6 linked regions of the Homo sapiens genome follow. The protein of the gene in region 5 purifies or fractionates together with the protein of the main gene of each other region. This does not show direct contact. Each region holds a gene or a part of one and is shown on either strand. Other genes may lie near its edges. The genes, in order: NECAP1, RNF170, ARHGAP39, SENP8, RAB4B and DAB2IP.

The links.
Region 1: the proteins of RAB4B (region 5) and NECAP1 purify together in Homo sapiens (affinity purification with mass spectrometry; one large-scale study listed by BioGRID and IntAct). This does not show direct contact.
Region 2: the proteins of RAB4B (region 5) and RNF170 purify together in Homo sapiens (affinity purification with mass spectrometry; one large-scale study listed by BioGRID and IntAct). This does not show direct contact.
Region 3: the proteins of RAB4B (region 5) and ARHGAP39 purify together in Homo sapiens (affinity purification with mass spectrometry; one large-scale study listed by BioGRID and IntAct). This does not show direct contact.
Region 4: the proteins of RAB4B (region 5) and SENP8 fractionate together in Homo sapiens (co-fractionation; one large-scale study listed by BioGRID). This does not show direct contact.
Region 6: the proteins of RAB4B (region 5) and DAB2IP purify together in Homo sapiens (affinity purification with mass spectrometry; one large-scale study listed by BioGRID and IntAct). This does not show direct contact.

The regions. Positions count from the first base shown.
Region 1 is NC_000012.12:8,085,029-8,089,124, forward strand, and holds part of NECAP1 (adaptin ear-binding coat-associated protein 1), read left to right. Parts: intron 1-4,096. UniProt on the Homo sapiens protein: Involved in endocytosis.
Region 2 is NC_000008.11:42,861,510-42,865,605, reverse strand, and holds part of RNF170 (E3 ubiquitin-protein ligase RNF170), read left to right. Parts: intron 1-116; coding exon 117-190; intron 191-912; coding exon of another isoform or gene 913-955; exon of another isoform or gene 956-993; intron 994-3,750; coding exon 3,751-3,861; intron 3,862-4,096. UniProt on the Homo sapiens protein: E3 ubiquitin-protein ligase that plays an essential role in stimulus-induced inositol 1,4,5-trisphosphate receptor type 1 (ITPR1) ubiquitination and degradation via the endoplasmic reticulum-associated degradation (ERAD) pathway.
Region 3 is NC_000008.11:144,675,495-144,679,590, reverse strand, and holds part of ARHGAP39 (rho GTPase-activating protein 39), read left to right. Parts: intron 1-4,096.
Region 4 is NC_000015.10:72,138,307-72,142,402, forward strand, and holds part of SENP8 (sentrin-specific protease 8), read left to right. Parts: intron 1-1,005; exon of another isoform or gene 1,006-1,129; intron 1,130-1,270; 5' UTR 1,271-1,317; coding exon 1,318-1,956; 3' UTR 1,957-4,096. UniProt on the Homo sapiens protein: Protease that catalyzes two essential functions in the NEDD8 pathway: processing of full-length NEDD8 to its mature form and deconjugation of NEDD8 from targeted proteins such as cullins or p53.
Region 5 is NC_000019.10:40,788,017-40,792,112, forward strand, and holds part of RAB4B (ras-related protein Rab-4B), read left to right. Parts: intron 1-4,096. UniProt on the Homo sapiens protein: The small GTPases Rab are key regulators of intracellular membrane trafficking, from the formation of transport vesicles to their fusion with membranes.
Region 6 is NC_000009.12:121,780,433-121,783,726, forward strand, and holds part of DAB2IP (disabled homolog 2-interacting protein), read left to right. Parts: intron 1-1,031; coding exon 1,032-1,119; intron 1,120-1,898; coding exon 1,899-2,066; 3' UTR 2,067-3,103; coding exon of another isoform or gene 3,104-3,113; 3' UTR 3,114-3,294. UniProt on the Homo sapiens protein: Functions as a scaffold protein implicated in the regulation of a large spectrum of both general and specialized signaling pathways.

The sequences.
Region 1 (4,096 bases), on a different chromosome or scaffold from region 5:
TTTTTTTTTGAGATGGAGTCTGGCTGTGTTGCCCAGGCTGGAGTGCGCTGGCGCAATCTCAGCTCGCCACAACCTCCGCCTCCCCGGTTCAAGTGATTTTCCTGCCTCAGCCTCCCAAGTAGCTGGGACTACAGGCACGTGCCACTATGCCCAGCTAATTTTTGTATATTTAGTAGAGACGGGGTTTCACTGTGTTGGCCAGGCTGGTCTCAAACTCTTGACCTCGTGATCCGCCTGCCTTGGCCTCCCAAAGTGCTGGGATTACAGGCGTGAGCCACCGCACCCGGCCTACTTCAAGCTTTTTAAAACACCTCCCCTCTCACCCATCTTCTCTATCTTCACTTCTTAGTTTTCCACAACCTTTATACTTACATCAGTTAACTGCACTGAGCCATTAAAGCAGTTTCTTAATTTTCCTCTTTTTCCTGTTATCCTTCTGTGTTTTCCATGTCTACTGGCATTTTTTATCCTCCAAGAGGCACCTTATCATCAATCACTTTTTTAGTACAGCACATGAAGAGAGCGGAATTAAGTTTGAATAACGATATTTATTTGCTGGGTTACCTTTGGCAAATCACCACTTTTGAATGTTAGTTTCTTCATTTGTAAAAATGACTATAACAATACTTACCTTGTAGGATCCTCTCACTTAATCTTCTTTTTTTTTTTTTTTTTTTTTTTTTTTTTGTTGTTGAGACAGAGTCTCGCTCTGTCACCCAGGCTGGCGTACAATGGTGTGATCATGGCTCACTGCAATCTGTGCCTCCCAGATTCAACTGATTCTCGTGCCTCAGCCTCCTGAGTAGTTGAGATTACAGATGTGCACTGCCATGCTTGGCTAATTTTTTGTATTTTTAGTAGAGATGGGGTTTCACCATGTTGGCCAGGCTGGTCTTGAACTCCTGGCCTCAGGCAATCCACCCACCTCAACCTCCCAAAGTGCTGGGATTACAGGCATGAGCCACTGCGCCTGGCCCTTTCACTTAATTTTCACGAGAATGGGCATAATGCCTGGCACATAATAAATGCTTGATAAATGCTGGTTTTCTTTTTGTTTGCATAATCTTTCTTATTTACCAGAACCCACTTTATATTATAAGCAGGATTTATTCTCTAGGCTGACATTAAAGGACAAACTGGGCTTTTTAGAAAGCAGGAGGAATTTTTCCTTTGAGTGACTGGTAAGATTAGAGAGAATAATTGATTTTAATTCACCTAGTGTAAGCTGTTCGTTCCCAGACTTTCACTGACCAGACTTCTAGACTATGGGAAGGAAAATTTGGGTTGACAAGAAACTTATCAGGCTGAGTGCGGTGGCTCATATCTGTAATCCCAGGACTTTGGGAGGCCGAGGCGCACGGATCACTTAAGGTCAGGAGTTCCAGACCAGCCTGGCCAACATGGTGAAACCCCGTCTCTACAAAAATACAAAAAACTTAGCCAGCCGTGGTGGCGCACACCTGTAGTCCCAGCTACCTGGGAGGCTGAGGCAGTAGAATTGTTTGAACCCGGGAGGCGGAGGTTGCAATGAGCTGAGATCATGCCACTGCTCTCCAGCCTAGGCGACAGAGCAGGACTGCGTCTCAAAACAAACAAAAAGGAAACTTACAAATGCTTAGAAAACAATCTGGGTGCGGTGGCTCACTCCTGTAATCCCAGCACTTGGGGAGGCCAAGGCGGGCGGATTTCCTGAAGTCAGGAGTTTGAGACCAGCCTGGCCAACTTGGTGGAACCCCGTCTTTACTAAAAATACAAAAGAAATTAGCTGGGCATGGTGGCCTGTGCCTGTAATCTCAGCTACTCAGGAGGCTGAGGCAAGAGAATTGCTTGAACCCGAGGTTGCAGTTAGCCAAGATCGCGCCATTGCACTCCAGCCTGGGTGGAAGAGTGAGACTCTATTACACACACACACACACACACACACACACACACAAATAAATAAATGGTTAGAAAACAGTTTTCCAACCTATAAAACTATTTTTTTTTAAAAAAAAATTCTTCACTACCCTCTTCCCTTAGCTAAATCAATATTAACCTCTATAATGCGTTTCAGTGTAATGAAAGAATAATGGACTTTAAAGTTAGGCATTATTACTTACTGTGTTATCCTTTCCATCATTTAGAGAGAAAGAGAGGTATGACAGGCTTTTCATGCCTATTTCACATATCTACTATAAGGACATAATAAGATGTACATTTGGAATCTTACTGTGAATCATCATAGTGGTTTTTTATTTATATATATATAAAGTTTTATTACTAAGGTAAATGAAAATTTGTAAGGTAAGTTAAAAGTATTGTCAGAGGACAAGCAAAATCAAGAGTTCTTTAGATTAGGTCTTGGAGTAGGAAAGGAACTAAGGCTCAAGGCTGAGGGAATCTGCTGCCATGAATATCCATTTACTTACAGAATTTGTTAAGTATCGGACACTAGATACACAAGAGAAATAAGGAACTCATCCAAGAAAAACACATTTAATAGACTTGTTCCTAATTTTTTTTTTTTTTTTTTAGAGACAGGGTCTCACCCTGTTGCTCAGGCTGGAGTGCAGTGGGGCGATCATAGCTCACTGCAACCTCAAATTCTTAGGCTCAGGCAGTCCTCCTGCCTTGGCCTCCCAAAGTGCTGGTTATAGGCGTGAGCCACGGTGCCTGGCTGTTCCTAATATTTTTAATAGCCCATTTACATGAGCTCTTGGTGGCATGATTATAATAAGTAATAACTCATTAATATAATAGATGAGGAACTTTAGAGCTCTCTAATCTGGATCAGATTTAGGTACTTGAGGGTCTTTGAGGGCAGGGAATCAAGAGGGAAGAGAATGGGAAGGACTTATTTTACAGATCCTGTTCAAAACCTGTGCTAATTTTCACTTTCATTTTCCTCCTTTCAGCTTTTTACCTCTCATCTTGTTAAACTCATTCTTGTTCAAATATACCTTGTGGTTGCTTTTTTAGTCTTTAAGTATTAGTCTTTGGTTTCTTAGAAGATGAATTATTAATAACTTTTACTTTGCTAATCTGTTTTCCATACTCCTGGCAAAACAAATCACAAATACAATGTTTTGTAAAATTCATCATAAATAATCTTAGTTGTTGTTCAAGTTGATTATAACACGTTTTATAAATTTCTGATGTTTTCATGGCCGTTTGTATCTCCAGCCCAGATGTCTTTCTTGAACTCGTCTCATATATTTTACTGCCTACTCTACATCTCTTGAAAATCTACTAGACATCTCAAACTCAGCATATTTAAAACTGAATCCCTGATCCTTCTTCCTAGATGTGTTCCTTCTCATCTCAATAATTGGCAACTCTTTGCTCAGGCTAAACACCTTGGAGTTGTCCTTGGCTTCTATCCCCTATCTAATCCATTAGAAAATCCTGCTGCTTTTACCCTAAATATATCCTTCTCTTCTATCCCATATCTAATCCATTAGAAAATCCTGCTACTTTTACCCTAAATATATCCAGAATATAGCCACTTCTGCTACCATTGTGACTTTTCTAGATTACTGCAGTAGTCTCTTAGCTAATCCCCCTGCTTCAGTCCTCTTATCCCAACAGCTTTTCTCCAGACAGCAGATGTAGTAATCTTTTTAGAATATAAGGGAGATCATGTCACACCTCTGCTTAAAATTTGTAATAGCTCTTTTTTCACTCAGAGTGAAAGCTGAAGTTGTTACTATGACCCACAAGGCCCTGCGTGATCTGGCCGTCTGTTACCTCTCCCACCTTGTCTCTTCCTCTGTTCTAACCACAGTGCTTCCTTGTTGTCTCTCAAACATGCCAGGCATGCCCCCACCGTAGCACCTTTGGGCTAGCTGTTCCTTATGTCTAGAATGCTTTTCCCCCAGACATCTGTATGGATAACTCTCTTGCTTCACATTCTAGCTCACATTTCACCTTAATGAGACCTACCCCAACCACCCTCTTGAATGCTACAACTTGTTCATTCTCCCACTGTCTTCTTAATCTTCCTAATTTGCCTCTACATTTTCTTTTTACCTTAGAACTCACCACTTTCTAAGATACTAATTATGCTGTTTATTATGTTTCTTTTTTATTTTCTATCTTCTGTTAGGATGTAAGCCTC
Region 2 (4,096 bases), on a different chromosome or scaffold from region 5:
TTTTAAATAACGTGGTACTGTTAAAATATTTCAAATAGTTGAATCTTTCTGAGGATATGTGGACTTTAAAACATCAATATTAATGGGTTATGTGTTTGTTTTGTTTTGTCTATTAGGTGCCTGCATTATTGCTTACTGGCGATATGGTTCATGGCTTGGGGCAATCAGTTGTCCAATCTGTAGACAAACGGTAATGTTTTGTGTGCAGAAAGTATCATTTATGCTAGTTTATTTTGTACATTTTTATAGTTTTTGTATCTACATTTGGAATTATTATTGTCTTTTTAGCAGAACTTCATTTATCCAAATCTTCTTTGATGTCACCATATATTATTATTATTATTTTTATTTTTTTTTATTTTTTTTGAAAAAAGGTCTTGCAGTGCAGTGGCATGATCGTAGCTTCCTGCAGCCTCGACCTCCTGGGCCCAAGCAATCCTTCCACCTTAGCCTCCTGAGTAGCTGGGACTATAGGCATGTGCCACCATGCCTGGCTAATTTTTTTATTTTTAGTAAAGATGAGGTCTCCCTGCATTGCCCAGGCTGGTCTGAAACTCCTGAACGCAAGCAATCCTCCTGCCTCAGCCTCCAAAGGTGCTGGGATTACAGGCATGAGATACCACGCCCAGCCCACGATTTTTTTTTTTTTTAAACTGTACCCGGCCCACGATTATTTTTTTAAAACTGTCACTGAGATACCACTACAAAAGGGAATCCTATTTGAAATCCTACAGTTGTAGTGAAAGACAATCAGGCTTGAGCATATATCCTCTATATATGCATATATACTTGTTTTGAAAAAAAATTTTTTTCCTTCTCAATGTATATTTAATCTGTCTTTTTCCAGTGAGGACCCAGATAGCTTTAAATGGTATATAATGATTTTTTTTTTTAATGTTTCATTCCTTTTAGAGACATGGCCACATTGCATTGTCCAGAACAGCTTAGACCATGACAGTTAGCATCGAAGCCACCTGAGGAGGGAGGCAGTAAGTAAGCATGAACGTGAGACTGAAATGTCACTGCAGATGAGACATGCCAAATTCTCTCCATTTCTTTGATAAACTGGAGAAATGAAATACTGAACAATTCTGAGAAACCAATATTCTCAGTTTTTAAGTATGACAAAATAGGACATTGTGTCAGTTGTACACTGTTTTTCATAATTTCCTTTATATTTATTTTTCATTTAAAATAAAAATACAGGGTGGGCGCAGTAGCTCATGCCTGTAATCCCAGCACTTTGGGAGGCCAAGGCAGGAGGATCACTTGAAGCTGGGAGTTCGATACCAGCTTGGGCAACAAAATGAGATTCCATCTCTACAAAAAAATTTAAAAAATGAAATTAGCCAGGTGTGGTGGTGTATACCTGTAGTCCCAGCTACTTGGGAGGCTGAGGTGGGGGGATTGCTTGAGCTCAGGAGGTTGAGGCTGCAATGAGCTATGATCATGGGACTGCACTCCAGCTTGGGCAATAGAACGAGATTACATCACTAAAAAAAAAAGTATTCCTCCACTTACCCATGGGTGGAATGTTCACACACACTAAAAAAAAAAAAAGTATTCCTCCACTTACCCGTGGGTGGAATGTTCACACACACACACACACACACACACACACACACTCTCTCTCTCTCTCTCCTTCAGCCTTTATTGTAGCTGTCTGTTTCCCCTCAACTGCCCTCTTATTTTGGTGCAAAGAGGGAGGTCCAAGTCATTTTCTTACCATTCTTGCTTATACATTCCCAAATTCTGCCTCTTTCATATTTTACTTGTGGCCACATGGTCAGGAGGAAAACTGATGTTTCTATATGCCTCTCTGGCTGATTTGATGCGTGACACAAGGCAGTCAACATTGAAGCTTATGGCCGGGCGTGATGGCTCACGCCTGTAATCCTAGCACTTTGGGAGGCTGAGGCGGGCAGATCACAAGGTCAAGAGATCAAGACCATCTTGGCCAACATGGTGAAACCCAGTCTGTACTAAATATACAAAAATTAGCTGCGCATGGTGGCGCACACCTGTAGTCCCAGCTACTTGGGAGGCTGAGGCAGAAAAATCACTTGAACCTGGGAGGTGGAGGTTGCAGTGAGCCGAGGTGGTGTCACTGCATTCCAGCCTGGAGACAGAGCGAGACTGTCTCAAAAAAAAATTTTTTTTTTAAATTGAAGCTTATTTGCCCGTACTACTTCTTGGCATCTTTTGCTCTCGGTCAGCAACATCCAAACTAGGGAGTAGGTCTTACATTAAAAAAATAGTTCCAGGCCCTCCCTCTTCTTGGTTCTGCCCATGGCTTTTCATAGGACATGTGTACAGTAGCCAGTGGTATCCTGTGTACCATCCATAAATTGACTAGAGGCTCAGAAGGTCGAGATAAAGTTGTCTTAATATAATAGGTCTTGGTTCCCTAAGATAAGAGTAATTCATCCTGGAGGCAAGACAGATGGCAAATGCTTGTTCTACCTCCTGTTTTCAGTAGCCCCTTCAGTAAATGGTCATGGAAATAGCAATACACAGGCTGCCGCCTCTGACTGGAACACATTCACCACTTCTCCCCTTGAATGCGTGCACACCAGCCACAGTCCTACCACCATTTCCAGGTTTGGCTCAGTATCAGGCTTTCTGACCACCCCAGGCAGAAGAGATCCTCGCTCTCACAGCAGCATTCTTGCACCTGCCCCAGGACCATGTAAGGCTGTCGGCCAGGTCTTCCTCCCCTTTCCTTGTGGGTGTTGTAGTCACCCTGGAGCAGGCTTTTGACTTCATTTTTCTGGCATACCTAGCACTAAGCAGAGTGCCTGGCCCGCCATAGGTGTTCCATTAATGTGTATTGAAAGAATGCATTTTTATTAACAAATTTGTGAAGGAAGTGATGGCTGCACCTGCTGTTCTCACCACCTTCTGTGCTTAGTCACGCCTTCTTTTAGCTGTTTGGAAAGCATCTAAACAGTGGGAAGCCTTGGTTTTACAGCTGAACTGAGGAAGGACAAAACAACAACTAAATGATTTAAAACTAAATCGGCCACCACTCCTTCCCGTTTTTATGTCATCATACAATCATTAGTGACCATTTTCTATAAGGGTGCTACGTCCTAAAGTGTATTTATTTTTCAAGGTACTGTCACCGTCAGATTACCCCAGTATGGTCCTGGGACATTTGTACATCCTTGTTACCACAACCATGAAGGAAGCAGGGTTAAATGTATTATGTTATATGACAATATCAAAAATTTCTTTTTTTTATTATAGTAGGAATTGGTGTTTGAGAGCTGGTCCCTGCAATAACATAATCTTTATATTATGGTTGGTAGCATTCAAAGATCTTTCAAATACCAGTAAGAATAACCAATCATTATTTTAATACTGAAAAAGAAAACCATAATTTTTCTGTCTTAAAGTGACAGTTATATATTTTATGTCACTTTCCTCCTGAATGTTTCCTCATCCTTCTTTTATCTTCAAATATCTGTTAGCCCAAATAGAGAACTAAGGAATTTACCCCTGGTGTGGACAGGAAAATATTAGGCCAGTAGTTGGATATGGTGTCTATTTTATAGGAGTTCAAATTCTATGTTGCATTGGATTTTATTGCAAAGCAGTTACTTACTCCCCTCCCCCAGGTTGCCTTTATTTAAAAATGAGTGAAATATAAATATAGAAGCCTTTATCATTCTATTGAATAATAACACAAAATGAAAAAAACATAATGATGCAGAAAGTTGAAATAATTTTTTTTTCTGTAATATACAGGTAACCTTACTCCTAACAGTATTTGGTGAAGATGATCAGTCTCAGGATGTTCTGAGATTGCATCAGGATATTAATGATTATAACCGGAGATTCTCAGGGCAACCCAGATCTGTAAGTAATGCTAAAGCATGTTCAAAGTTAGAGGAAGACACATTTCTTCTCTTTTGTAAAGTGAGGTTTACCAACAAGTATTCTTTGACTATGAGAAATCTTGGCCAGGCACAGTAGCTAACGCCTATAATCCTAGCACTTTGGGAGGCCAAGGCAGGTGGATCACTTGAGCCCAGGAGTTTGAGACCAGCCTTGGAAACATGATGAAACCCCATCTCTAGAAAAAACACCAAAA
Region 3 (4,096 bases), on a different chromosome or scaffold from region 5:
GGGTTGGTGAAGGAAGAAATCCAAATCCAGGAGTTTACTGGACAGCTTTCTCCAGAGCGAGTTGCAGTAGCAACCCCAGCACTGCAGCGCTCACAGCAGCAGAGGCTGATTCCTGCCCGCGTTTCGTTTGCTTGTGACTCTTTTCCAAGAGTCTTCATTTCCAGATCCAGGACCAGGCCTTATGTGGCACATGCTGTTTTTATGGCAAGAGAGTGGCAGAAACCTAGTGTCTTTTCCGGCACCATCCTGGACTGGCATCTCAGGGTCCACGGACCAAAGCAGGGTGTGACGTACAGCCTCCTATGGGGAAGGTGAGCCCCTGCTCGGACGCTGTGCTGAGCAGAGCTGAGGAGCCCGTACCTGCTGTCTGGGCCATCTCACCATGACTGAAGGTGCAGCTGGATGTCTCCCCTCAGCCGCAGATGCTGGACGCTGGAGCCGGCCACCATGCGCGAGAGCCCCTGAGGCGGCTCAGACTCAGCACCCACATTCACTTCTGGCCTCAACCCTTTGGGGCTTTGGGACCTTCACCTGCTTGGTCACCACCTAGAATTTTGGCGTGCTGGGTCCCCCTCTCAGCTGCCATGTGGTACGGCTCCAGGTCCTCTTGCCAGTTCCCCCTGAACAGTGATCAGAACCCCTGCCTGAGTGGGACCTGCACCATGTCCCTCCTGCACTACGCTGTACCTCCTGGGGCTCTCCTGCCCCAGCCTTGAGCCACTCCCCTGTCTCTGCCACATAGCTGCTCAGATGATATAAACAGGGCAGTGATCTCCCCAGGGGTGATTCTGACACCACTCCCCGCCCTCCTGCCACATTTGGCAATATTTGGAGACATTTTTGGTTGTCCCAACTAGGAGGGGATGGCCAAGGATTTGTGGAGGCTGGGGATGCTGTTGAAATCCTACAGTGCACAGGATGGCGCCAGGCTCAGAGCGTCTAGGCGAGTGACTCTGCTGCCTGGCTCTCCTCCCTGGCTCCCCAGTGCCTCCTGGACCATGCTCCACAGCGCTGCGTGACCCCAACCTACTCTGCTCTCCAGAAAAACTGCCATGTGGTCATGGGCCAAGTCTTTCTTGGCGTCCCTCCTTCCAAAACTAAGCCAAGCTCACTGGTTCCTTCAGCCCTTTGACTCAGACTCAGGTAATGTCTGTGGGAGCGCCTCCTGGATCGCTGCCTTGTCCTCAGGTGCTCCACCCCCTCTCGTAGTGCTCTAGGTGGTGCTTTTGGTCACTGCACAATCACATAATATTTTCTCCCCTCTAGACTGGGAAGTCCTTGAGGGCAGCAGATACATTTGTATTTTCTTTTTTTTTTTTTAGAGAGAGAGTCAGGGTGGGTTGTCCAGGCTGGAGTGCAGTGGTATGATCACAGCTCAGTGCAGCCTCCATCTCCTGGGCTCAAGTGATCCTCCCACCTCGGCCTCCGAAAGTGCCAGGATTGTAGACATGAGCCATGGCACTTGGCTGTTTGTGTTCTGAATGTCTTGCTGCAGATTGCAACATTTTCTTTGAGCACTGGCTTCAGTAAAGATGATTGGGTTTAGGATGGGGAGTTGCCCTCAGAGAATGGCTGGCGCAGCAGGGGGAGGGACTCGTTGACACATTTCCCACGTCGGCTGCTTCCATCTTCCTGGGCCTCTCTTGTAACTTGCTTTCCTAAGTGTAAATGTCTTGATTCTCACAGATTCTCTATTTTTGCTTCCTAGAAAGTTTCAATTTTGTTTAACATTTTTGAGCAGATAATATACGTGGTTCAAAAGTACAAAGGGAGCTCAGTGAAGCCTCCTAGTCTCTACCCTGGAACCTGGTTCCCCTGGAAGCTTTGCTGGACCAGCTTCTTGTGTATCCTTCTAGAGATACTTTGTAACTTTGCAAGCAAACAAGTGTATGTATTCTGTTTTTTTCCTTACCCTTTTCTTTTTAAAAAGTTTCTGAACCTTGCCTTTTTCAACTATGTTTGAGAGATCTTTCCATATCAGTACATTTTCCGGTACATTCTTTCCATGGCCGCACTGTATTTGGCTGTATGGAGGTGCTGTGGAATTTTCATGCTGTTACCAGCAAGGCTATAGGCACAGTGTTTTGCAAATGTACCTGTAGGACCCATCCTAGAAATAGCATCTCTTTCTTCAATCACCGTTTATTCCGTCACATCAGGGTTTGCTCTTGTCTCTTAGTGTCTTTATTTCTGCACTTCCTTTGGTCATTTATTTCTCCTAATTATCTCATCTCTCTATATTTTAAATAATATAGTAGGTCAAATTAAATGAATGTCTCAGTTGGAAACTGGTTCACCTTTTGTGTGTTCTTTTGGTTGAGTGACTGGAAATATACACGTCCACGCAGAAGCTTGTCCATGAGTGTTCACAACAGCCAGAAAGTGGAGACAACCTAAATGTCCATCAGCGGATGAACGGATAAACACAATGTGGTCCATTCCTGCAATGGAATATTATTTGGCAATAAAAGGAAGTGAGTTACTGATTCATGTTATAACGTGTGTGAACCTTAAAAATATGCAGGCCAGGCACGGTGGCTCAGGCCTCTAATCCCAGCACTTTGGGAGGCCCAGGCGGGCGGATCATGAGGTCAAGAGATCAAGACCATCCTGACCAACATGGTGAAACCCTGTCTATACTAAAAGTACAAAAATTAGCTGGGCGTGGAGGTGAGAGGTGACAACGTGCTGGCAGCCCTCGCTTGCTCTCGGCGCCTCCTCGGCGTCCGCTCTGGCCACGCTGGAGGAGCCCTTCAGCCAGCTGCTGCGCTGTGGGGGCCTCTCTCTGGGGCTGGCCGAGGCCAGAGCCGGCTCCCTCTGCTCGCAGAGAGGTGTGGAGGGAGAGGCGTGGGCGGGAGCCGGTGCTGTGGCTGGCGCCTGCTGGGCTTGATCTGGGACGAGCTTCCTCTGGGCTGCCGGAGTGCCCGGGCTAGGTGCCGTGAAGTCCCACCATTGAGAGGTGAAGCCGGCTGGGCTTCTGGGTCGGGTGGGGACTTGGAGAACTTTTCTGTCTAGCTAAAGGTTTGTAAACACACCAATCAGCAGTCTGTGTCTAGCTAAAGGTTTGTAAACGCACCAATCAGCACTGTGTGTCTAGCTCAAGGTTTGTAAACGCACCAGTCAGCAGCACGTGTGTCTAGCTCAAGGTTTGTAAACGCACCAGTCAGCAGCACCCGTGTCTAGCTCAAGGTTTGTAAACGCACCAATCAGTGCTCTGTGTCTAGCTAATCTAGTGGGGACTTGGAGAACTTTTGTGTCTAGCTAAAGTATTGTAAATGCACCAATCAGCACTCTGTGTTTAGCTGAAGGTTTGTAAACATACTAATCAGCACCCTGTCAAAACGGACCAATCAGCTCTGTGTAAAATGGACCAATCGGTGGGAGGTGGGTGGAGCCAGATAAGGGAATAAAAGCAGGCCACCCAAGCCAGCAGCGGCAACACGCTGGGGTCCCCTTCCATGCTGTGGAAGCTTTGTTCTTTTGCTCTTCGCACTAAATCTTGCTGGTGCTCACTCTTTGGGTCCGCGCCGCCTTTATGAGCTGTGACACTCACCGAGAAGGTCTGCAGCTTCACTCCTGAAGCCAGCGAGACCATGAACCCACTGGGAGGGAAGAACAACTCCTGACGGGAGGAAGGAACAACTCTGGACATGCTATCTTCATGAACCGTAACACTCACCGCGAAGGTCTGCAGCTTCACTCCTGAAGCCAGGAAGACCACGAACCCACCGGAGGGAACGAACAACTCCAGATGCACTGCCTTTAAGAACTGTAATACTAACCACGAAGGTCTGCAGCTTCACTCCTGAGGCCAGCGAGACCACGAACCCACCGGAAGGAATGAACAACTCCAGACGCACCGTCTTTAAGAGCTGTAACACTAACCACGAAGGTCTGCAGTTTCACTCCTGAAGCCAGGAAGACCACGAACCCACCGGCAGGAACGAACAACTCCAGATGCACTGCCTTTAAGAGCTGTAACACTAACCACAAAGGTCTGCAGCTTCACTCCTGAGGCCAGCGAGACCACAAACCCACCGGAAGGAATGAACAACTCCAGACGCACCATCTTTAAGAGCTGTAACACTAACCACGA
Region 4 (4,096 bases), on a different chromosome or scaffold from region 5:
AGGAGTGCCAACCCCCGTATGCAGTCAAAATTCTAGGTATAACTTTTTTTTTTTTTTTTTTGAGATGGAGTCTTGCTCTGTTGCCCAGGCTGGAGCGCAATGGCATGATCTCAGCTCACTGCAACCTCCACCTTCCAGGTTCAAGCAGTTCTCCCACCTCAGCCTTTCGAGTAGCTGGGATTACAGGCATGCCCCACCACGCCCGGCTAATTTTTGTATTTTTAGTAGAGATGGGGTTTCACCATGTTGGCCAGGCTGGTCTCAAACTCCTGACCTCAAGTGATCTGCCCACCTTGGCCTCCCAAAGTGCTGGGATTTCAGGCGTGAGCCACAGCACCCAGCCTAGGTGTAGGATTTGACTCCCTAAAAAAATACGCCAGGTGCGGTGGCTCACGCCTGTAATTCCAGCACTTTGGGAGGCTGAGGCGGGCGGATCACAAGGTCAGGAATTCGAGACCAGCCTGGCTGATATGGCGAAACCCTGTCTCTACTAAAAATACAAAAAAAAATTAGCCGGGCATGGTGGCACATGCCTGTAATCCCAGCTACTCAGGAGGTTGAGTCAAAAGAATCGCTTCAACCCAGGAGGCAGAGGTTGCAGTGAGCTGAGATCGTGCCACTGCACTCCAATCTGGGCGACAGAGTGTGACTCCATCTCAAAAAAAAAAAAAAAAAAAAACTTTACTACCAATAACATAGCCAATTAACAATAACATAGCCAATTAATACATGTTTTGTAAATGTATTATATACTGCATAATATATACCTTACCAATAACATAGCCAATTAACACGTTTTGTAAATGTATTATATACATTTACAAATAACCTTACCAATAACATAGCCAATTAACACGTTACCTTACCAATAACATAGCCTTACCAATAACATAGCCAGTTAACACATGTTTTTTAATGTATTATAAACTGCATTCTTACGAAAAAGTAAGCTAGGGGAAAATATTAAGAAAATCATAAAAGAAAATATATTTACTATTCATTAAGTGGAAATGGATCGTCATAAAGGTCTTCATCCTCATCATCATGTTGAGTAGGCTGAAGAGGAGGAGGAAAAGGAGCAATTGGTCTTGCTGTCTCAGGGGTGGCAGAGGCAAAAGAAAATCCATGTGTAAGTAGATCTGCACAGATCAAACCCACCTTGTCCAAGGGTCAACTGTGTATTTTTTTACCACAACCCTATAAAAGTAACTACTATTTTCCAGCCGCATTTTACAGTCAGGTATTTATTGACAATAATATTGTCTTCTAGCTCTTGTTCAGCTTCTGGAATTTCTGAGCAGCCCTCGTCAGTACAAGATGGACCCCGTAGTCTTGAGTTACATGGACAGTCTACTGCGGCAATCAGATGTCTCACTATTGGATCCGCCAAGCTGGCTCAATGACCATATTATTGGGTTTGCGTTTGAGTACTTTGCCAACAGTCAGTTTCATGACTGCTCTGATCACGTCAGTTTCATCAGCCCTGAAGTCACCCAGTTCATCAAGTGCACTAGCAACCCAGCAGAGATTGCCATGTTCCTTGAACCACTGGACCTCCCCAACAAGAGAGTTGTATTTTTAGCCATCAATGATAACTCCAACCAGGCAGCTGGAGGAACCCACTGGAGTTTATTGGTCTACCTCCAAGATAAAAATAGCTTTTTTCATTATGATTCCCATAGCAGGAGCAACTCAGTTCACGCAAAGCAGGTAGCAGAGAAACTGGAGGCTTTCTTAGGCAGAAAAGGAGACAAACTGGCCTTTGTGGAAGAGAAAGCCCCTGCCCAACAAAACAGCTATGACTGTGGGATGTACGTGATATGTAACACTGAGGCCTTGTGTCAGAACTTCTTTAGGCAACAGACAGAATCACTGCTGCAGCTACTCACCCCTGCATACATCACAAAGAAGAGGGGAGAATGGAAAGATCTCATTACCACACTTGCTAAAAAGTAGCTATTGAAGTATATTTGCGACTTTTGAAGGCTCCTCTTTCTGCCCTTCCCCATTTGTTGGATGGCTGCAATCTCAGTGCCTGAGGGAAGATGCCTAGTAGAGGAAAGCTTAATACTCTTTTTCCTGAAAGAATATCATCCTCTGCATTATCCCCATGGAACGTTTCACTTTAACCCTGACTGGGGAGCAATATGTTCTGTGAAAATATCTTGAAATTGTACACCAAAACCTTACAACCAACTTATTTGAACATTTATTACACACAGGGTTTACGTAAGACTTTTCTTATTGGTATATAATTAATTTCCTTTGGTCTCCCTTATCCACATTGGCTTATTCTGGAGGAAAAGCAGTGATCTGTAAAACAAATCAAGAATATATTAAATCTAGAGGAATGCAGAGAAGAAAACTATAAAACAGAACCAAAAACTTGTTGCACAGCCTACATAATTAAGAGATCAACTGGCTGGAAGCAGATCAAGGCCTAACTTCATTCAAGACCTAAATATTATGAGACTCAGTTATTCGGTTTTATGTGACATCTCTTCCATTCACCATGCACAGGCTTTTCCAGCTATCTATATAATGTTTGCAAATATTTGATAAAGATGATGTTACCCTATCTTCCTCCATCTGATTCCTGGAATGCTTGAAGAAAGGGGAAATCTTGAGTAACCTCATTAAAATTAATGTCTGGTGGACCTCTCAGTTTGCTCACTGATTGGGTAGACTTGCTACTCTGGATTAATAACTGCTTTTCTCTGCCTTGTCTATTAGCCATGCACACACTTCCTCCTTATATCCAAAGTTCTTTGGTTCTAAAATTCATAGTTGATACCTTCCCAAGGTTACCTGTTGTTTCAGATAAACATTTGTTCTTCCTGATAGTTATAGGTTTTCCTCTCTGTCCTTAATTCTGGCAGAATTGTTTTTAGTTATGTCATGGTAATTTCAGGATGATTTTTGTATCTGAAACTTAACAGACTTAGAGTTGGTTTGTTTTTTAAATATAAAGGAAGAAAAGTGACCTTTCTCAGCCCTTTTACTTAATTAAAAATGCAGGGAATGTAATTTGTAAAATGTGGAACCAAGAGTAGAACGAAATACTATCCCTCCAGAAGCACTGATGTGTTTCAGTTGTTTCAAATAGTAAACAACCAGATGACATGTTAGGTACACAAATTAATTCTATTCCTAATGAGAATTAGATTGCAAGGCCTATGAGACTTGAAAACCAAAGATGAGCTTCAGCCATGAAACTTATTTCAGCTACCTCCCCAGCCTAACCCTGCCCCCAGCCCTCATGGCCCAAAATAACCTCACCACTCAGTGACCACAGAGAAAGTAACTTGGTTCCTTTTAGCCGAGAAGGGAAAACACAGTAAGGGTAAATAAGTACAGGTTACATAGCAGGCCTGAGTGAGCAGGAGCTGAAACTAAAAGTCAAAGAGAAAGCTATCAAAAAAAGTTTCCATTTCAAGTCGGTACATTTTGGATAAAAACCAGTCCTAATGGAAGATGGGGCTAGGAAAAAGATTAGGAACTGGCAGTCATCCATAGAGGTGAAATACAGAGGGAGGGACAGCAAGAGAAGTGACAAAGGTCACTGATGATAGGCCACAAGTGTAGATAAAGATAAGAAAACAATGTTATTTCAGTGACTGTTGACTTAGGCAGCTAATCTAGACTATTAAAGTCAAATCCTCTCTGGGAAAAGTTATCTTTCTGACAATGCAAAGTATGTTTATTTAAATATCAGAGTATCTTCAATCTGAGAATTAAAGCATATGAAAGCAATCTTTCCTAACTCCCTACGATTCATCTTATAAGTAAATTTATAAGTAAATTTTTAAACTACACTAGTCTTTTAAATATATATAGAAAAATATATATACACACGTATAGACATGTATATGTAATCTATCTACATATATATAAAAAATGCATTTTCCAAATGCATTAGCCTGATTGGACTGTGCCACAGATTAGTGTCCTCCTATGAAATTTTGAGTATGTCATTTGTAAATGTTAGCATTATAAATTGCAGGAGAATTTAAGAATTGACTTGTATTTCACTGGATACTATAGTACCCGGTAAGTTACACACCTGCTTGACCACATACCATTCATGTTACATGAC
Region 5 (4,096 bases):
CCTGCAGCCCCAGGCCAGCTTCCTGCCCTAGACCTTGACCCTCCCATTCATAGTTCTCCAGCGATTTATTGAGCGCCTGCTGTGTGCCAGGCCCTGCTCAAGGCACTGGGGATATGGCAGGGAGTACAACAGACTCCCATCCTCATGGTGCTGACATTCTCTTTGGGGGAGACAGGTGATAAACAAGAGATGTAAGTCGACTGGGCGCAGTGGCTCACACCTGTAATCCCAGCACTTTGGCAGGGTGAGATGGGAAGATCACTTTGAGACCAGGCTGGGCAACAAAGCAACCTTATCTCCACAAAAAGTTTTTTAAAATTAGCGAGGCGTGGTGGTGTGCACCTGGAGTCCCAGCTACTTGGGAGGCTGAGGTGGGAGGATGGCTTGAGTCCAGGTGTTCGAGGCTGCAGTGAGCTGTGACCATGCGCCACTGCATTCCAGCCTGGGTGACAGAGCGAGACTCTTAAAAAAAAAAAAAAAAAAAAAAGTAAAGTATGTAGTAGTGAGGGAGGTAAGAACTATGGGGAAAAATAAAACAGGCACAGATGAGTGGATAGGGTGGAGGAGTGTACTTTTTTTTTTTTCTTTGAGATGGGGTATTGCTCTGTTACCCAGGATGGAGTGCTGTGGCGTGATCTCGGCTCACTGAAACCTCCGCCTCCTGGGTTCAAGTGATTCTCCTGCCTCAGCCTCCCGAGTAGCTGAGATTACAGGCGACTACCACCATGCCTGGCTAATTTTTTTTAATTTTTATAGAGACAGGGTTTCTTTTTTTTTTTTTTTTTTTTTTTGAGATGGAGTCTTGCTCTGTTGCCCAGGCTAGAGTGCAGTGGCACGATCTTGGTTCACTGCAACTTCTGCCTCCTGAGTTCAAGTTGCCTCAGCCTCCTGAGTAGCTGGAACTACAGGCGCCCGCCACCACGCCTGGCTAATTTTTATGTATTTAGTAGAGATGGGGTTTTACCATATTGGCCAGGCTGGTCTCGATCTCTTGACCTTGTGATCTGCCCGCCTCGGCCTCTCAAAGTGCCGGGATTACAGTGTGAGCCACCGCACCTGGCCGACACAGGGTTTCATCATGTTGGCCAGGCTGGTATCAAACTCCTGACCTCAAGTGATCCACCCACTCTTGGCCTACTAAAATGTTGAGATTACAGGCGTGAGCCACTGCGCCCGGCCAAGAATGTACTTTTTTTTTTTTCTGAGATGGAGTTTCACTCTTGTTGCCCAGGCTGGAGTGCAATGGCGCGATCTCAGCTCACCGCAACCTCTGCCTCCTAGGTTCAAGCAATTCTCCTGCCTCAGTCTCCTGAGTAGCTGGGATTACAGGCATGTGCCACCACACCCAGCTAATTTTGTATTTTTAGTAGAGACGGGGTTTCTCCGTGTTGGTCAGGCTGGTCTGGAACTCCCGACCTCAGGTGATCTGCCCGCCTCAGCCTCCCAAAGTGCTGGGATTACAGGCGGGAGCCACCACGCCCAGCCTTTTTTTTTTTTTTTTTTTTTGAGACAGAGTCTCACTCTGTCGCCATGCTAGAGTGCAGTGGCACGATCTCGGCTCACTGCAACCTCTGCCTCCTGGGTTCAAGCAATTCTCCTGCCTCAGTCTCCCGAGTAGCTGGGACTATAGGTGCGTGCCACCATGCCCAGCTAATTTTTGTATTTTTAGTAGAGACATTTCACCATGTTGGCCAGGTTGGTCTCGATCTCTTGACCTCGTGATCCGCCCACCTCAGCCTCCCAAAGTGCTGGGATTACAGGCGTCAGCCACCGCACCTGGCCAAGAGTGTACATTTAAACAAGATGAGGAGGGAAGCCTCGCTGAGAAGATGACATTTGAGTGAAGGAAGGGAGATAGGGAGGCCTGTGGGGATCTGGGGCAAGAGCACTGCTGGAGAGCACAGCAACGCTTCTAGCGAGGGGTATGCCTGGTGTCGGTGAGGGTGACCAAAGCAGCCAGTGTGGTCATCATGGAGGACCTGTGTGTGTTTTGTGGGTACAGCATGAGATGGGGTCAGGGGTTGGAGGAAGCAGATCAGTTAGGGCCTGTGGGCCCTGGGGAGGCCTCTGGCTTATACCCTGTGTGGGAGCCATGGGAGGCTTCTGAACAGAGGAAGGACAGGATCAGATTCAGGGGTGCAGAGAGTTCCTCTGGCTGCATAAAGGGAAGGGGCTGTGAGGGACAGAGGAGGTCACCAGGACACCAGAGAGGAAGCTGCTGCAAAGTCCAGGGAAGATGGTGGAGGACAGGACAAGGGGGCGGGAAGAGGAGTGGCTGAGAAGGGAATAGGGTTCATGTCCTCCCTAGACTCTCTGTCTTCCAGTCTTGGCCTCTCTCTTTTTTTTTTTTTTGGTTCCTGTCTTTTTATTTTGAGACAGAGTCTCGCTCTGTCACCCAGGCTGGAGTGCAGTGGCGCGATCTTGGCTTACTGCAAGCTCCGCCTCCTGGGTTCATGCCATTCTCCTGCCTCAGCCTCCTGAGTAGCTGGGACTACAGGCACCCGTCACCATGCCCGGCTAATTTTTTGTATTTTTTTTAGTAGAGATGGGGTTTCACGGTGTTAGCCAGGATGGTCTCGATCTCCTGACCTCGTGATCCTCCTGCCTCGGCCTCCCAAAGTGCTGGGATTACAGGCATGAGCCTTTCCTTTTTTTTTTTTTTTTTTTTTAATTTTAGAGAGAATCTCACTCTGCTCACTCTGTCACCCAGGCTAGAGTGCAGTGGCGCCATCTTGGCTCACTGCGACCTCCGCCTCCCGGGTTCAAGTGAGTCTCCTGCCTCAGCCTCCCAAGTAGCTGGGATTACAGGCATGTACTGCCACAACCAGCTAATTTTTGTATTTTTTTTTTTTTTTTGGAGATGGAGTCTCGCTTTGTTGCCCAGGCTGGAGTGCAGTGGTGCAGTCTCGGCTCACTGCAACCTCCGCCTCCTGGGTTCAGGTGATTCTTCTGCCTCAGCCTCCCGAGTAGCTGGGACTACAGGTGCGTGCCACCACGTCTGGCTAATTTTCTGTATTTTTAGTAGAGATGGGGTTTCACCATGTTAGCCAGGATGGTCTCGATCTCCTGACCTCGTGATCCACCTGCCTCGGCCTCCCAAAGTGCTGGGATGACAGGCGTGAGACATTGCGCCCGGCCAATTTTTGTATTTTTAATACAGACAGGGTTTTGCCATGCTCGTGAGGCTGGTCTTGAACTCCTGACTTCAGGTGATTCACCCGCCTTGGCCTCCCAAAGTGCTGGGATTACAGGCCTGAGCCACTGTGCCCTGCCAATCCTGTCTCCTTTTGATGCAGCCACTGGGTCTTTCTAACACACATATCTGCTCCTGTCGCTCCCTTTTTCAAAACCATCCATGCATCTCAGGGCCCCAGGACACAAATGAACTCCTCAGCCTGGTGTTTGACCCTCTGCAGGGACTGGCCCCTGCCAGCCCAGCCTTACCGGCCTCAGCCACTTGTCGGTCTCCCTACCTCTCAGGCCACTCCAGCCACACTGAAGTTCTTCCCATTCCTCTGGGCCCTTGCTCATGCTGGGCCTCTGCTTGGAACATTCCTACCCTCTTTTCCCTGGCAACCTCCTTCCTCCAGGCAGCACTACTTGTTCCTCCAGGCTTGGTCCAAACTTTTGTTTTTTTTTGAGATAGAGTCTCTGTCACTCAGGCTGGAGTGCAGTGGCGTGATTTCGGCTCACCGCAACCTCCGCTTCCAGGTTCAAGCAATTCTGGTGCCCCAGCCTCCTGAGTAGCTGGGACTATGGGCATGGGCCACCAACGCCTGGCAAAGTTTTTATATTTTTAGTAGAGACAGGGTTTCACCACGTTGGCCAGCTGCTCACAAACTCCTGGCCTCAAGTGATCCACCCACCTCAGCATCCAAAGTGCTGGAATTATAGGCATGAGCCACTGCACCCGGCCCCAAACTTCTTGACAGGCTTTCAAAACCCTGCAGGATTTGGTCCCATCCCTCCTTCTCTGGGGGATGTGTATGTCTTGCCAGTTCTCCCTTCTATACTTCATGCTAAATCCCCTCCCAGCCCTTGGCAGCTCCAGGGTGGGACAGGTGGGGAACAAGTGGTTAGACCTTGGATCTACTTG
Region 6 (3,294 bases), on a different chromosome or scaffold from region 5:
CTCCCTGTGTGTCTTCTGTGAGTGGGCTAAGTGCTTGCCCAGTGTGCGGTGGCTGCTCTAGGCTGGAGGAATCAAGAGGGCAGGGATGGAGAGAAGCCTTGGGAGTGGAGGGCTCATCTAAGAGTGTGTGGAGCAAGGAGAAGGGAGGCTGAGGCCAAAGCCCTGTGGACCCCCATGTCCAGAGGCAGACAGGACAAGGCATCTAGGAGACAGGCAGACCCAGAGAGTGTGGGGTCTCAAAGCCAAAGGAGAGTGGGAAGGTGGGAGTGCCCAGCAGTGAGAGTGTCTCAGGAACCAGCCAGGTGGGGCCAGGAGGGCTCCCAGGCAGGGAGCAGCAGGACGGAGCCGGCCTCCTGCCCACTGAGCTTCCGCGGGTGGTATGTCCCCCAGCTACTGCTCATTGTTCTGCCTGCACACCTGTCCTTCAGATGTCTCCTACTGATGTGCGACCTCCCAGCCCACCCTCCAGGGAACGTCACTGCTTCCTGCTCTTTGTTCCAGGGACCTGAGCTTTCCACTAGCGCAGCTGCTCCGTGCAGGGTGTAGTTAGTTACTCGTGCCTCCTGCCTTGTGAACTCCTTGAGGGAAAGGACTAGAGTTCATTCATCTTGGCACCTCGCGTACAACTTTGTGAAGATGGCGGGGGCAGGGTGGAAAAAGTTCTAGAGCCTTTCAGGGCCTTCGTCTTTCCACCACCTGCCTAGCTCTAGGGGTTTGAAGATCTAATGCCCATTTCCACCCATCTTGGCTCCTGGAAGAACATCGGGAAAGGGGCAGCCCGGGGGCCTCTGGGGCTTTAGGAGCAGCGAGTGTGGGATGTGGAGGTGAGGAAGGAGGCCCAGCAGTGTCAGTTGCTGGGAGTCGGCTGGAGGGCCTCTGCCCCAGGCAAGTATGGGAGGCAAGTCTCTGACCCAAGGAGGGGCTCTCCTAGTGTGTCCCTGCTGTGTGCGGGGGTGATGGGCTTGTTCTCACACCCTCCCCACCTCTGCTGCCTCCAGGGCCAGTCTGACTGTCTCTGTCTCTGGCTATAGGTTGATGTCCGTGGAGGAAGAACTGAAGAAGGACCACGCAGAGATGCAAGCGGCTGTGGACTCCAAACAGAAGATCATTGATGCCCAGGTGGGGGCTCCGGCCCTTTGGTCAGCCACAAGAGTTAAAGGGCCTGGGATTAGGAGGGGTGACTAGCCTCTCCATCCTCAGTCATACCTCACTGCAGACACTGAGGGGAATAAGAAACCAGAATCTGCCCTGAGAAGTCAGACCTGTGGTCTTAGTGGGCCACAAGCTCACTAGGACAGGCTGTGAAAGGAGAGAGGCAGCTCCTCCCCTGCCAGGGCTCTTGGCGGGCATTGTCTTTCACCAGGACTGCTGACCAAAGAGTGGAAGCCACCAGGAGGGCAGTGGGGGTAGGAGTGAAGGCAGGCTGGTCAGAGGGAGCAGTGGGGCTCTCGTTCACAACTATGGCATCCGGGCTGCATTGAGGGGAGACGTGAAAGGCTCTGTGGCCCCAGCCTCCTTTACTCAGGGCTGCACCGCTTTCCTTTCACTCACCCAGGAGTAGGCTGGGCCTTGCTCAGGCTGTAAACTGCACAGACCAGGAGCTGTGACCTCTGGTGTGTCATGCACACACATGTGAGCAAGGGTGCCTGCCCTAGGGGCCGCAGGCAGCCCATAGACAGCACTAGAGCTGCTGCATTTGGGCTGATAAGCAGGCAGCGAGGCTGTGTCCATGATGCTGCAGAGGCCTCTGCCTACCTTCTCTTGCCAGCTGCTCACAGCCCGGAGCCTGCCTGCCACCCTCATCTCCAGGCCACCCCCTTCCCCGATGCTTGTCGTAGGTATACACAGCCCTAAGGAGCCTGTCCCATGACCCCCGCTCACATCCCCATTGTCCACAGGAGAAGCGCATTGCCTCGTTGGATGCCGCCAATGCCCGCCTCATGAGTGCCCTGACCCAGCTGAAAGAGAGGTACAGCATGCAAGCCCGTAACGGCATCTCCCCCACCAACCCCACCAAATTGCAGATTACTGAGAACGGCGAGTTCAGAAACAGCAGCAATTGTTAACCTGCCTGAGGAGGGAGGAAGCTACCCAAGGAGAGGGGGACTATGGTGGCCAAGGGCAGGGTCTCGGCCTGGGGAGGCACCCACGGTTGCAGCCCCAGCGCGGGTGTCAGGAGGCCGAGCCTCCCCTCCCTGCCGCTGTCCAGGAGGCGGCCGCAGAGGGAGCCACCAGAGACTGAAGCAGCGTGAGGCGAGGTCACCAGCCGCTCCCTGTGGGGTGCGGGCAGAAGAGACTGCACGCTGGGGAGTGGGGACAGCCTGATGGGGCAGGGGGCCTGCCAAAAATATGTCTGTTGGTTCCTGAATGTGGTGTGTCCTTGTCCTCCTGGATCTGGCCGAGTGCATGTGTCCCCCCACACCTGTGCCAGGGAGGGGGCTTCCTGGAGGGGGGATTCAAGGGCTAGGGGCCTACACCTGTGGCTTCCCCTCGCCTCCTTGGGGGGCCCGGGACTCCCTGGCAGCCAGGCCCTGTCATGTGGGACCTGGCACTTGGCAGATCAGTTGGCAGGCAGGAAGATAGGAGGACACAGAGCAGGAGGTCAGTGTCCCCTGCCTGTCTCCATCCGAAGCACCTGCCACTGCATGCAGCCTGTTGGGACCTTCCTGGCTGTGAGGAACTGAGGATTCCTACCCACCCACCCCCTCTGAACCTGTCCCCAGAGCACCACCTGCTACCTTCTTCCCTGCCTTAGTTGTATTGCCAGATAGACCCAGTGAGGGCCATGGCTTTTTCTTGTGAGCTCTTGTCCCTGTGGGGAGGACCCACAGCTTCCCACACCTCCCACACAGGCCCAGGCTGATGCTCTAGGGCTCCCAGAAGCCAGAGATCTGGGCGGATCTGGCCAGATGGCTCTGAGCACTGTATCTGCCTTCTCCTGGGGCCCAGCACACCCAGGGCACAGTGGTCCTGTAGGGAGTGCCACCTGGTGCTCACCCTGAAAGAAAAGGTGATCCTTCCTCTGAGTGATGGTTTAAAAAAAGATTCTAACGCCTGCAGGCCCTGAGAAGGTGGATAACTGTGATTTTTTTTCCTTTCACAGTATGCATTAGAAACAAAAGCCCGCTTGCTCGCTTGCTGGAACACAGGGGCCTTTTAAGTTGAGCGTGCGCACTGCATGGGAAATAGCGGCCCTGGAGGATGTTAGACTTGCTCCCTCTCCAAGACAGCAGCAGCCTGCACCTGCCCCGTGTGTGTGGCCGGCCTCCTCCTCACCCTTCCCGGCCCCCGGCC